Linked DNA regions of Homo sapiens: region 2 is linked to region 1. The links come from fine-mapping of genetic effects on gene expression. Tissue or cell type: whole blood. Region 1 holds a variant in brackets; the other region holds the start of a gene. All regions are shown on one strand. Distances are between the middles of the regions.

The links. PIP is the estimated chance that this variant, and not a neighbour inherited with it, causes the effect.
Region 2: it holds the start of CKS1B, and the variant in region 1 is fine-mapped to the expression of CKS1B in whole blood (TOPMed, PIP above 0.99).

Annotation. Positions count from the first base shown.
Region 1 is chr1:154,856,239-154,861,238 of GRCh38, forward strand. The region is part of intron 1 of KCNN3 (potassium calcium-activated channel subfamily N member 3); the gene reads right to left. Among named protein-coding and RNA genes, the nearest start is that of KCNN3, 12 kb to the right of the region's middle. RefSeq lists enhancers at 691-850, 2,985-3,485, 3,552-4,165, 3,689-4,168, 3,995-4,289. The variant C/A (reference allele first, on the strand shown) is at 2,480.
Region 2 is chr1:154,972,626-154,977,625 of GRCh38, forward strand. It overlaps CKS1B (CDC28 protein kinase regulatory subunit 1B), which reads left to right and starts at 2,056. Exons shown (of 3, transcript NM_001826.3): 1 at 2,056-2,179. The coding sequence starts at 2,121. MIR4258 (microRNA 4258) reads left to right here and starts at 3,068; the gene lies at 3,068-3,158. It also overlaps a transcript of SHC1 not described here. RefSeq lists enhancers at 1,552-1,701, 2,152-2,301, 2,402-2,461 and a silencer at 1,792-1,881.

The sequences.
Region 1 (5,000 bases):
GCAGCAGGGAGGGAGGCTGGCCAGAAGGGCCTGTCTCTCAGCTGTCTCCTGAGAGTGAGAAAATCCCCTTAGCCACGATGTCTTCACAGGCTTTCGCTTGTGGGATAGGAAGATAACGCCCCCCGCAGCCCACCCTGCCAACATGCACCATCGATGAGGACCCCCGCCAGCTGGAATAGCGTAGCTTTCTTCCAGTTCTCTCCGAAATTCCATCTGGTGCTCACGACCTTCCCGCAGATGGCCAGTGCAGGAAACATCCCCTCCTCAGGCTCCTTCTCTCACTCTCTAGATGACAAAACAGAGGACCAGAAACTAAGCTGCCCCACACCTAGCCTAGGATGCTTCTCCTCACCTGCAACTCAGCTGGCCTTCACAGAGCGCTCCATGTGTGCCAGAAACCATGTCCTCTGCCTTACAAACAGCAATATCTCATTAACTCTCATGACAGCCCCAGCGGCCAGGTTAGGATTCACCCCCATGGAAACTGTGAATCAAAGCACTGAGACAGCTTCCCAAAGCCACACAGCCTACAGTAAGTGACACAGCCAGCGCTGTACCCAATATCTGCTTGGCACTAAAGCCTGTTCTCCTAACACCAGGCTAGATAGCCCATATAGAAGAATCAGAGGATGGCCTGGGAGACAGATATGAGGGAGGATGGAAGAAGTGAGGGTGAGATGGACCTTCAGGAAATGGGGGGAAGGGGAGCAGACGGAGGCGTGGGACACCAAGTCTCAGGCTTGTGGGTCAAACCCAAGCCACATGTGTGTGCCCTTGTCTCTCGCAAAGCTCACATCAGACCTGTTGTTACTTGTTCAGTGCCTGCCTCCCCCACCAGCCTGTGAGCTCCATGTCTATTTGGTGCTGAACCCCCAGAACCAACCAGAACACGCCAGGCAGTGCCCTTGTCTCATTTATTCCTCATGACACCCATTCTCATGAGAGAGAGAAAACACTGTTAACCCCATTCACAGACCTGGAGACTGAGGCTCAAAGAGGTCAGTTTTCTCAACAAGGCTGCACAGCCGAGAAGCCACAGAGCTGCGGCAAGAACACTAGGACGCATGCTGTTGAGGGCTCGGGTGGCCCCTCCAGGGCCCACAGGAGACTTTCCTCAGCCCCAGAGCCCAGCACGGCACCTGGAGCTTCAGCAAACCCCTGTATCTAAACTGCCAGCATCCTCCTCCCCTCCTCCCTCTACCCTTACCCCACTCCATGAGCACAAAACATCCCCTGAGGCTCTGGGGGAGGCTGGCAGGGGACTGAGGGTGGCACAGTAAGGGGTGGGGTGGGCGGGAGTGGAGAGCTCAGGCAGGGCAGGAGAAGCTTTTTGGCTTGAAAGAGCCCAGTCTAGGATCTGATATGCAAAAGCATGTCTGCTGCACAATGTGAGGGCGTCGGAGACACTCCCCTGTGTGCAAATCCAAACTCCACCACCTCCCAGCTGTGAGACCCTGAGCAAGTCACTTAAACTCTCGGAGCCTTGGGTCTGTCATCTGTAAAATGGGGAGAATTATATCTACCTCACAGGGTTGTTGTGAGGACTTAATGAGATGAGGTGTGTAAACACACATAGTAGGCCCTTAATAAATATTCTCTTCTCCACCGCCTGTCACCTCTTCACTCCTGAATAAGACCCGGTGTTGCTTTGGAGTCATTCTTACGGAAGGAAAAATAAGTTCCCATGTAATGAGAGCGGTGCCTTCCCCCAAGCTGCTGTGGACACAGGCTTTCTTTCTATATGATCCCGTCCACCCACCAGGAAACCCTCATGACTCAACTCCATCCTAGACTTGCTCTCAGCTTGCATCAATTTCATTTCACTCTTAAGGGATCTTTCCATCGCTGGCACATAGTGTGCACCCCGTCAGGTGTCTTCTGCCAAAATGCCCTCCCACCAGGCTCAGCACCATTACTCTCCCAGAGCAGGGGAAAGCATCTTGGCAGAGCTTAACACCAGGTCCAGCCCAGAGCAGGAGGGGCTGGGAACCATGGGCCCAGCTGTGAGGGACCTTGCATGATCCCAAGGCCACTGAGCTCTCAGAAGAAACAACCAAGGTAAAACCCACCATTGCCCAGCATGGACAAGAGCCCCCTGGGTGACAGCTCTGGCCCACGTTGAATTCTTCACCTCTCCACCCACAAGAGGAATTAAAATACCACCTCCCAAATAAAGGGGCCGCTGCGCAAGGCCACACAGCCAAATAGCCAGGATTTGAATCCAGGTCTATGGGGAAAGCCTGTGCTCTCTTAGGAAGAGTTGGTGGAGAACAACACATCTGGCTGGGGAGAGACCCCCCTGGAGTCTGTAAGGCACAGATTCTCTGCACTCCTGCCGCCTGGAGCAGGGCTTGCCACACAGTGGGTGTTCAGGATATGTTTCCAGAAGAGGGATGGGAGAAACAAAAAGAGAGGAAGAACTAAAACCAGGAATTCCAGGATTCCAGCTATGCCCCTGCCACTAACAATGCTGAGTAGC[C/A]TCGGACAAGTCATGTAACTTTTTTTTTTTTTTTTTTGAGACAAGGTGTCACTATGTTGCCCAGGCTGGTCTTGAGGTCCTGGACTCAACCGATCCTCCCGCCTCAGCCTCCCAAAGTGCTGGATTACAGGTGTGAGCCACCGCATAACTTCTATGGGCCTTGGGGTCCTATAAGGAGGAGGATGGTCCTTTCCCTGCCTTCCTCACAGGGCTGGGAGGCATATGCAGGGATCTTGCCCACCCAGGCTAGCACACCTGGCTGGCCTACAGAGCTTGGCCATCTAGGGCAGGTATGGTGCCCCCCTGAGGAGGCCTCCCCTGCATCCTCCACCAATGCCATCCAGCTCTGAGCCCTCCAAAGGCGGTGGCTCAACCCTGAGCAACATGCCTACCCCAAGCCCTCACCTTGGGAGAAGGTAACATCACCCATGCAGGCAGCTCCGGCCATTCCCATGTATGGGAGATTTTTGGGGAGCCAACATCTTACCCACTGGAAGCCAGAAAAGAAAGAAAATAGCTAAACTCCAATTCGTTAAAATCAGAAATCTCAAAAGGGGTTTTGCTCTGCAAAAATCGCTGCTAGTGGAAGCTTGCGAGGAGGCAGGCTGATGCCAACTCAGGCAAAGGGGCTAGGAGGAGCCACCACTTGCTGGCAGCCCAGGAGCACCCACAGCCAGGCTGGCCACTTGACCAACCACTAGCAAGTGTCATCCTCCCCAGGTTAGTGGATGTCAGTCTCCCCACATCCATTACAAACGGGGACACTGAGGCTCGGAGAGTTTGAGGCACAGAGCTTAAGGAAAACCAACGGTGGCAGATGGACCAGAATGAGCAAGGGCAGCCTCTCCCTGCCTCCCTGCAGGGCCCCCTCAGCTCAAAGCCACTGACAGGTCAGCAAGGTTCAATGGCTCAAGCCAGGCAACAGGTCATCTGCTTCCTCCTCCCTACCTACTGGGTAACCTGGGCAGGGCACCCACCTTTATAGGTCTCTCCATCTATAACCTGAAGCAAAACACCAAACAACTGTCCTTGCAGATGTCGCGTGGCAGGCCTGGTATCAGCAAGCTCTAAGGAGTAGGTGCCAGCTCAGTCCCTGCAAGGAGTGTCCTTTAAGCTGACTTTCCTGTTAATTTGACACTGAGCAGCACTCCTGTCCTTTAAGAAAAATGCCCAACAAGCTGACTCAAAAATAACAGATGCCAATTTGCATATTATTTCACACATCATTTGCATGCTGTTCATTTAGTATCATCAAGGCTCTGCTCAGAATACAACTCTGGTTACCCTGTGCCCAGGGCTTGTGAAACAGATATGGCTTCCACAAAGGGCAAGCCCTGGGCACGTCCCTCCCCTGCCCAGCTGCTCTTGCTGCCTGCCCCCTGGCACCTGGCTGGGAACGTCACCCACTGCCACAGCCCTGGTGCTCCAAGCAGGGTGAAGGGGCAGAAAGAATCTTTAGAATTCTAGGAAGCACCCTGACTCAAGTCTTGAAGGGGAAATTGTGTTCTCTTGACGACGCATCAGGCAAGCTGTGGCAATGCTTTTCTTCCCTGCTTCTGTCCCAGGTCAGCTTCCTAGTTCGGCTCTCCCTGTGGCCCTACTCTCTCAGCCTTTTTCTGCCTGGTCATCGTGTGTCCCCCTGACCTTCCTCCAGGCCTCTCAGCCTCTGGCCTGGCCCCACGGGTTTATTTTTGTTCTCTCTCCACCTGTCCGATTTGCATGTCCACACCCGGTTAGCTCTGCCCAGACCACAAATTGCTAACTGAGTGTAGAATAACAGGGCCCCATGGGGTAAGAAGGCTCCAGAAGTCCAGCCCAGGCCACCACTGCAGCCCTGCCCTCCGGAGAACAGCCCACTTCCTTTTTACTCACACAGATTCACCCAACAAGGTCTATCCAGAAACATGACTGGGGAGCTTGTCACGGACGGGAAGCCATTTGGCTCATGAGAAAAGGGGCATGTTCCACACGTGCTCTCCAGGCAGGGACACCTGCAGACAGTGGAGGGGTGACATGGGCGCATATGCCCCTCCTGTCTTGATGCTCCAGGTGGCATCTTCTAACCACCACTCTAATAAAGGCAACAGTTGCCAGCTGCTGAGACCCAGTGTGTGGCTGGCTCTGTGGTGGCTGCTGTGCTACAGCCAGTAGTTGTGATTCCCTCTTAACACTGAGGAAATAGGCTTTGGGTTCAGTAAGTTCCCAGAGCGCCCATCACTGGTGTGCCACCCAAGTTTTTTTTTTTTTTTTTTTTTGAGATGGAGTCTCACTCTGTTGCCCAGGCTGGAGTGCAGTGGCGCGATCTCGGCTCACTGCAACCTCCGCCTCCCGGGTTCAAGCGATTCTCCAGCCTCAGCCTCCCAAGGAGCTGGGATAACAGGCGTGAGCCACCAGGTCCGGCTAATTTTCTTATTTTTAGTAGAGATGAGGTTTCGCCATGTTGGCCAGGCTGGTCTCGAGCTCCTGACCTCAGGTGATCCACCCTCCTTGGCCTCTCAAAGTGCTGCGATTACAGGTATGA
Region 2 (5,000 bases), 120 kb after region 1:
TGGGCGTTCGGAAGAAAAGAAAGACGTATGACTCTTGAAATTTACATAGGGAGAAAGGAGATTGCCTACTGGAAGTCCAGGTGATTGGGTGTAGGGGAAAAGCTGTGTGTGGCTTCGCAGCCCAACTGGGAGGAGGGGACAGGGGCGGGAAGTGGCAGGAAATGGCGAAAGCCTCAGGAATGTTTCCAGCAGGGAAGGCTGGGCAAACGGGGCCAGGAGGAATGCCCAGACAAGAACTCTGGTTAGGGGGAGGGGAAGAGACAGAGAAGTAGCGACTGAACTGTCCCTTAAAAAAAAAAAAATCAAACAACAAAAAGAGCACTATTATCTACCCCCACTCCAAACTACCGTTCTTCTGGTAGTAGAAAACTTTTGCTCATGTCACACCCACATGCCACACACCAACAAATCCATGGTCTTATCCACTTATGTCTAGGAAGGCCTAGAGCTACTTCTGGGATGAGGTTGGTCCTGGGAAGGGAAAGCCAGGAAGTGAGGCTGGGAGTCTGAGGGCAAGTCTCTCTCTCCCTCTCGTGCCAAACCCCACGTTCAGCCCTTTCAAATAGTTCTACCCTTGGAGGAGGTTAAGAAAGAGGAAAACGGGGACGGGCGCAGTGGCTAACGCCTGTAATCCTAACACTTAAGGAGGCTGATAAGGGTGGAGCACCTGAGGTCAGGAGTTCGAGGCTAGCCTAGCCAACATGGGGAAACCCCGTCTCTACTAAAAATACAAAAATTAGCCGGGCGTGGTGGTGGGCGCCTGTAATCCCAGCTACTCAGGAGGCTGAGGCAGGAGAATCACTTGAACTCAGGAGGCGGAGGTTGCAGTGAGCCGAGATCGCACCATTGCACTCCAGCCTGGACGATAAGAGCGAAACTCCGTCTTAAAAAAAAAAAAAAAAAAAAAAAAGATAGAAAGGAAAACGGAAAACGGCTGCCTTTAATCTCACTCCTTACAGCCAGAGATGGGAACTTTGACTTCCCACCTGGGGGAGCACGAGAGTGCTCGGAAAACTGATCCCAAGGCCCAAAAAGAGAAAGGACAGGAAAATATAAGCAGGTGGAGTTTCAGGGATTGACGACAAGGCTTTTCAGCTGATGACCCAGGTCCCACAAAGATAAAGCTCCTAAGGGGGCGTGGTCCCCTAAGGACGCGAACTTCAGACTTCTGGGCGGGGAGGCTTTCTGGACAGTCAGACGTGGATTACGGAGGGGGCGTGGCTTCGGAGGGGCGGAGCTTCAACAAATTCGAATCGTTCTTTGAAGAGCAGGGTTTTGCCCTTTTGGGAGATAGGCCTTTTGACAGGAGTTAGCCGAGGATCGTTGCTAGGAGGCGGAGTTTCGGAGAATGGAAGGAGTAACGAAGGGTTTCTCGTAGTAGGGCTTGGAACGTGTCGGGGGGTGGGGACTTCCAGAAAAACTGGGCGACAGGGTGGGGTCGGAGACAAAAAATAAAAATCAAGTCGGGGTTCGGGGGAGCCCCCTGAAGTTGGGAGGTGGGACTTCCGGGGAGAGGGGTCTCAGGGGCGGGACTTATAAATGAAGACCGGAAGTGGGGTCCCGGGAGAGGGGTTCCGGGGTGAAAGAGTGAGTCACCTAAGGAGAAAAAAGTCAAGACTCACCAGGGCCTCATGGAGTCTCCGCACCGCACCGCGGGCCGATTTGGTGCCGGATCACGCCACTGCCAGCTTAGGTTACCGCTCCAACTTTCTCCCCGGGCCCTGCCTCCCTGGAGAAACTTTATTACACTCACTTCCGGCCTCACTAACCCCTGACCCTCTACCTCAGGGTCCCTCCTTCACGCTTCCCACTTTCCCGAGTTAGCCAATGGCAGCGCGAGATCGCGCACAAAGGCAGTGGTGGCCAATAAGACGCCTACTTTTGACCCACGCTCGTTCTTGAGAAGCGTGAGAACTGCCCTCCAATAAGGATCCGAAGAGAAGTAAATCTAAGCCAATCGGAGGCTTGAAAGTAGAGGTGTCCCGCCTCGAGCCAAACGGACCAATAGGAAGTGCGGGCGGCGTGTTTGAAAGCGAGGCCAAAGTGGGTGGGAGCGCGTGCTGTTGGGAGTTGCTTGGAGGTTGGCGGCGCGGGGCTGAAGGCTAGCAAACCGAGCGATCATGTCGCACAAACAAATTTACTATTCGGACAAATACGACGACGAGGAGTTTGAGTATCGGTTAGTGCTGGCGCGGGAGCAATAGCGAGGGTCGTGAGCTTTGGCCGCTGAGGGCACAAGGAATTAGTAACAGGAACTGAGGCGATAGAATTGGCGCATGCGTACGAGGTGCGAACGGGCAATGGTGTGATATTGTGGAAGGCGTAAGGCGCATGCGCGGAGGTGGGAGGCGCTCGTAAAACAAAGTGGTTGCGAATTTGGAGTCGCCTCTCAGTAGAGAGGAGAGAGGGGTGGGCGTGGTTAGGGTACTGACCACCCTCACCCATGAGGCTTTCTGGATCATTCTCTGAACTTTATCGGGCAAACTTAACTTGCCTTGTAGAGACTGTTTCACAGTAATCTTGTCGAATCCAGTGGGAGAACGTAGCAAAAGCGGAGCTGGAAGTTTCCTGGCGTCCCTAACAGGAGAGTAGCGCTGAGAGAGTTGAATATTGCTTATTAACTCGTGAAAAAGACAAGGGGCGTGGTTGTCTGGCTTGTGTAAGGAAGGGGATCGCTTGGGACTGCAATGGAATAAAACTGGCTAGGAGCATTGAGAAAATACTTAATATGGGTCTAATAGATGCCCTTTAAATATCAAAGGGAACAGTTACGGAATACTTAACAGGTTTCAGGTGTTCTGCTAAAGTGCAAGGATAACACATGGTCTCTGCTGTTCACAAATTTAAAAATCTGTGGGTGGTACCGACAGACACCAGAAAGGTGACACACGCTATGCAAGGAGCCATTACAGGGTGTGATGGGAGCACACAAGACTTGCTAAGGAGAGGGAACTGGCGACCCGAAGGCTGCGGCTTCCTAGCTGTGAGCGGGGGTTGAGGTGGGGCTAGAAAGTCAGTCCCCTACTTTTGCTAACTCCAGGACGCTCCCCCATCCCACGCTTCGAGAACGCCCCCCGCCCCGCCACCGCCTTGGAGGCTGACCTCTTACTTTCGGTCGGTCTTCTTCCCTGGGCTTGGTTTGGGGGCGGGGGAGTGTCCTAAGGGCCAATTCAGCGTGATGTCTCTTTCACCACCATTGAAAACGAAACCAGTAGTAAACTACGCGTGTTTTCATTTATATGTCGGAGATAAAAACACAGGGACAGAAAGAGGGGAACAACAGACATTGGGGCCTGCTTGAGGGAGGAGGGTGGGAGGAGGTAGAGGTTCAGGAAAAAAAAAAACTGTCGGGTACTATGCTTAGTACCTGGGTGATGAAATAACCTGTACACCGAACCCCCGAGTCAGGATTTTACCTATATAACAAACCTGCACATGTACCCTTGAACATGAAACTTAAAATACTGAGAGGAAAAACGGAAGAGGGAATGTTGGGGAAAGCTTCCTAGAGGGCAGAGCCTGAGATGAGACTCTAAGAAAAAGGTATGTGGGAGGAAGCACCTCTTGACTGAAATTGTTTAGAAGACACTGGATAGCCATCTGCCAAGGATGGTGATGATGGAATCCTGGCACTGGATGTGGCATTCGGGCTTGATAAATTTTAAGTGCATAATCTAGATTGGGAATAAGGGAAGACACAGGATTCCACAAATGTTGGCATTATGCTAATCTGTATTAATTGTAATAATTAAGACCACTTCCTGGTTTGTATCTTGTCTCCTCAGTTGGAGAACATAAAATGAAAACTTGCTTTTCTTGTGTCTCTTCACCCAGCCTAGTTCAGGGCTTTGGGTCTTCCAGAGAACTCGATGTGCATTGACAAATACATAATCATCTTTATGCCAAGACGGCTCCAGACCCTCCTTTAATTAACTTTCTTTTCCTCAGCTGTTTTCCTCTACATCTGAACTAAACTAACTTAAAACTGTATGTGCTTATAAGAGATTTGTGGAGCTGGGAAGGAATCACCATTTCATCCCCTGGAAGATGAAACTCTTGGCAGTGGCACTTTGGTTTAAGAGGGGTTTTTTGGTGTATGTATTGAAGCCAAATTTCGTGCCAGGGTGGTGTTAGAATGTGAGCTATTTTCATTATATTTGGACTAGAATTTTTTCTTTTAGGAGAATGGTGGGGAATCACTGTTACTAGCACAGAGGGAGAACTTAGTACATTTTCATTGAGCATGACGAAGACTATGTGGATTAGTTTGATTCACATCAGGGTAATAATTTTTTTGCTATGAAGGGAGACTTATCCTTGGTTAGAAAAGCACGGAATTTACCCAGAAAGTCTCAAGGTACATCCCTCCAGAGTTAGGAAAATAAGATTCAGGATAGATTTAATTTTTTTTTTAAGAGACAAGGTCTTGCTTTGTTGCCCAGACTGGAGTGCAGTGGCTATTCACAGGCACAACCATTGTGCATTGCAGCCCTTTCTTTTTTCTTATTTTTTTTCTCTTTTTTTGAGACGGAATCTCACTCTATCGCCCAGATCTCAGCTCACTGCAACCTCCGCCTCCTGGATTCAAGGGATTCTCTCCTGCCTCAACCTCCCAAATAGCTGGGATTACAGGTGCATGCCACCACACCCGGCTAATTTTTGTATTTTTAGTAGAGACGGGGTTTCACGTTGTTGGTCAGGCTGGTCTCCAACTCCTGACCTCAAGTGATCCACCCACCTCAGCCTCCCAAAGTGCTGGGATTACAGGCATGAGCCACCGCCCCTGGCCTATTTCTTCTGTATTTTAATCAGATTTCAAACTTCATACTGTATCTTTTTCAAACTCCTGGGTTCAAATGACCCTCCTGCCTCAGCCTCCCAAGTAGCTGGGACTGTAGGTTTGTGCCACCATGCCTGGCTTAGATTTTAAAGGACAAGATAGTTCATTTCATCCTTTGTAATAACTTGTCCACACAGTACTTCATAAAAGGCCTTTCCTC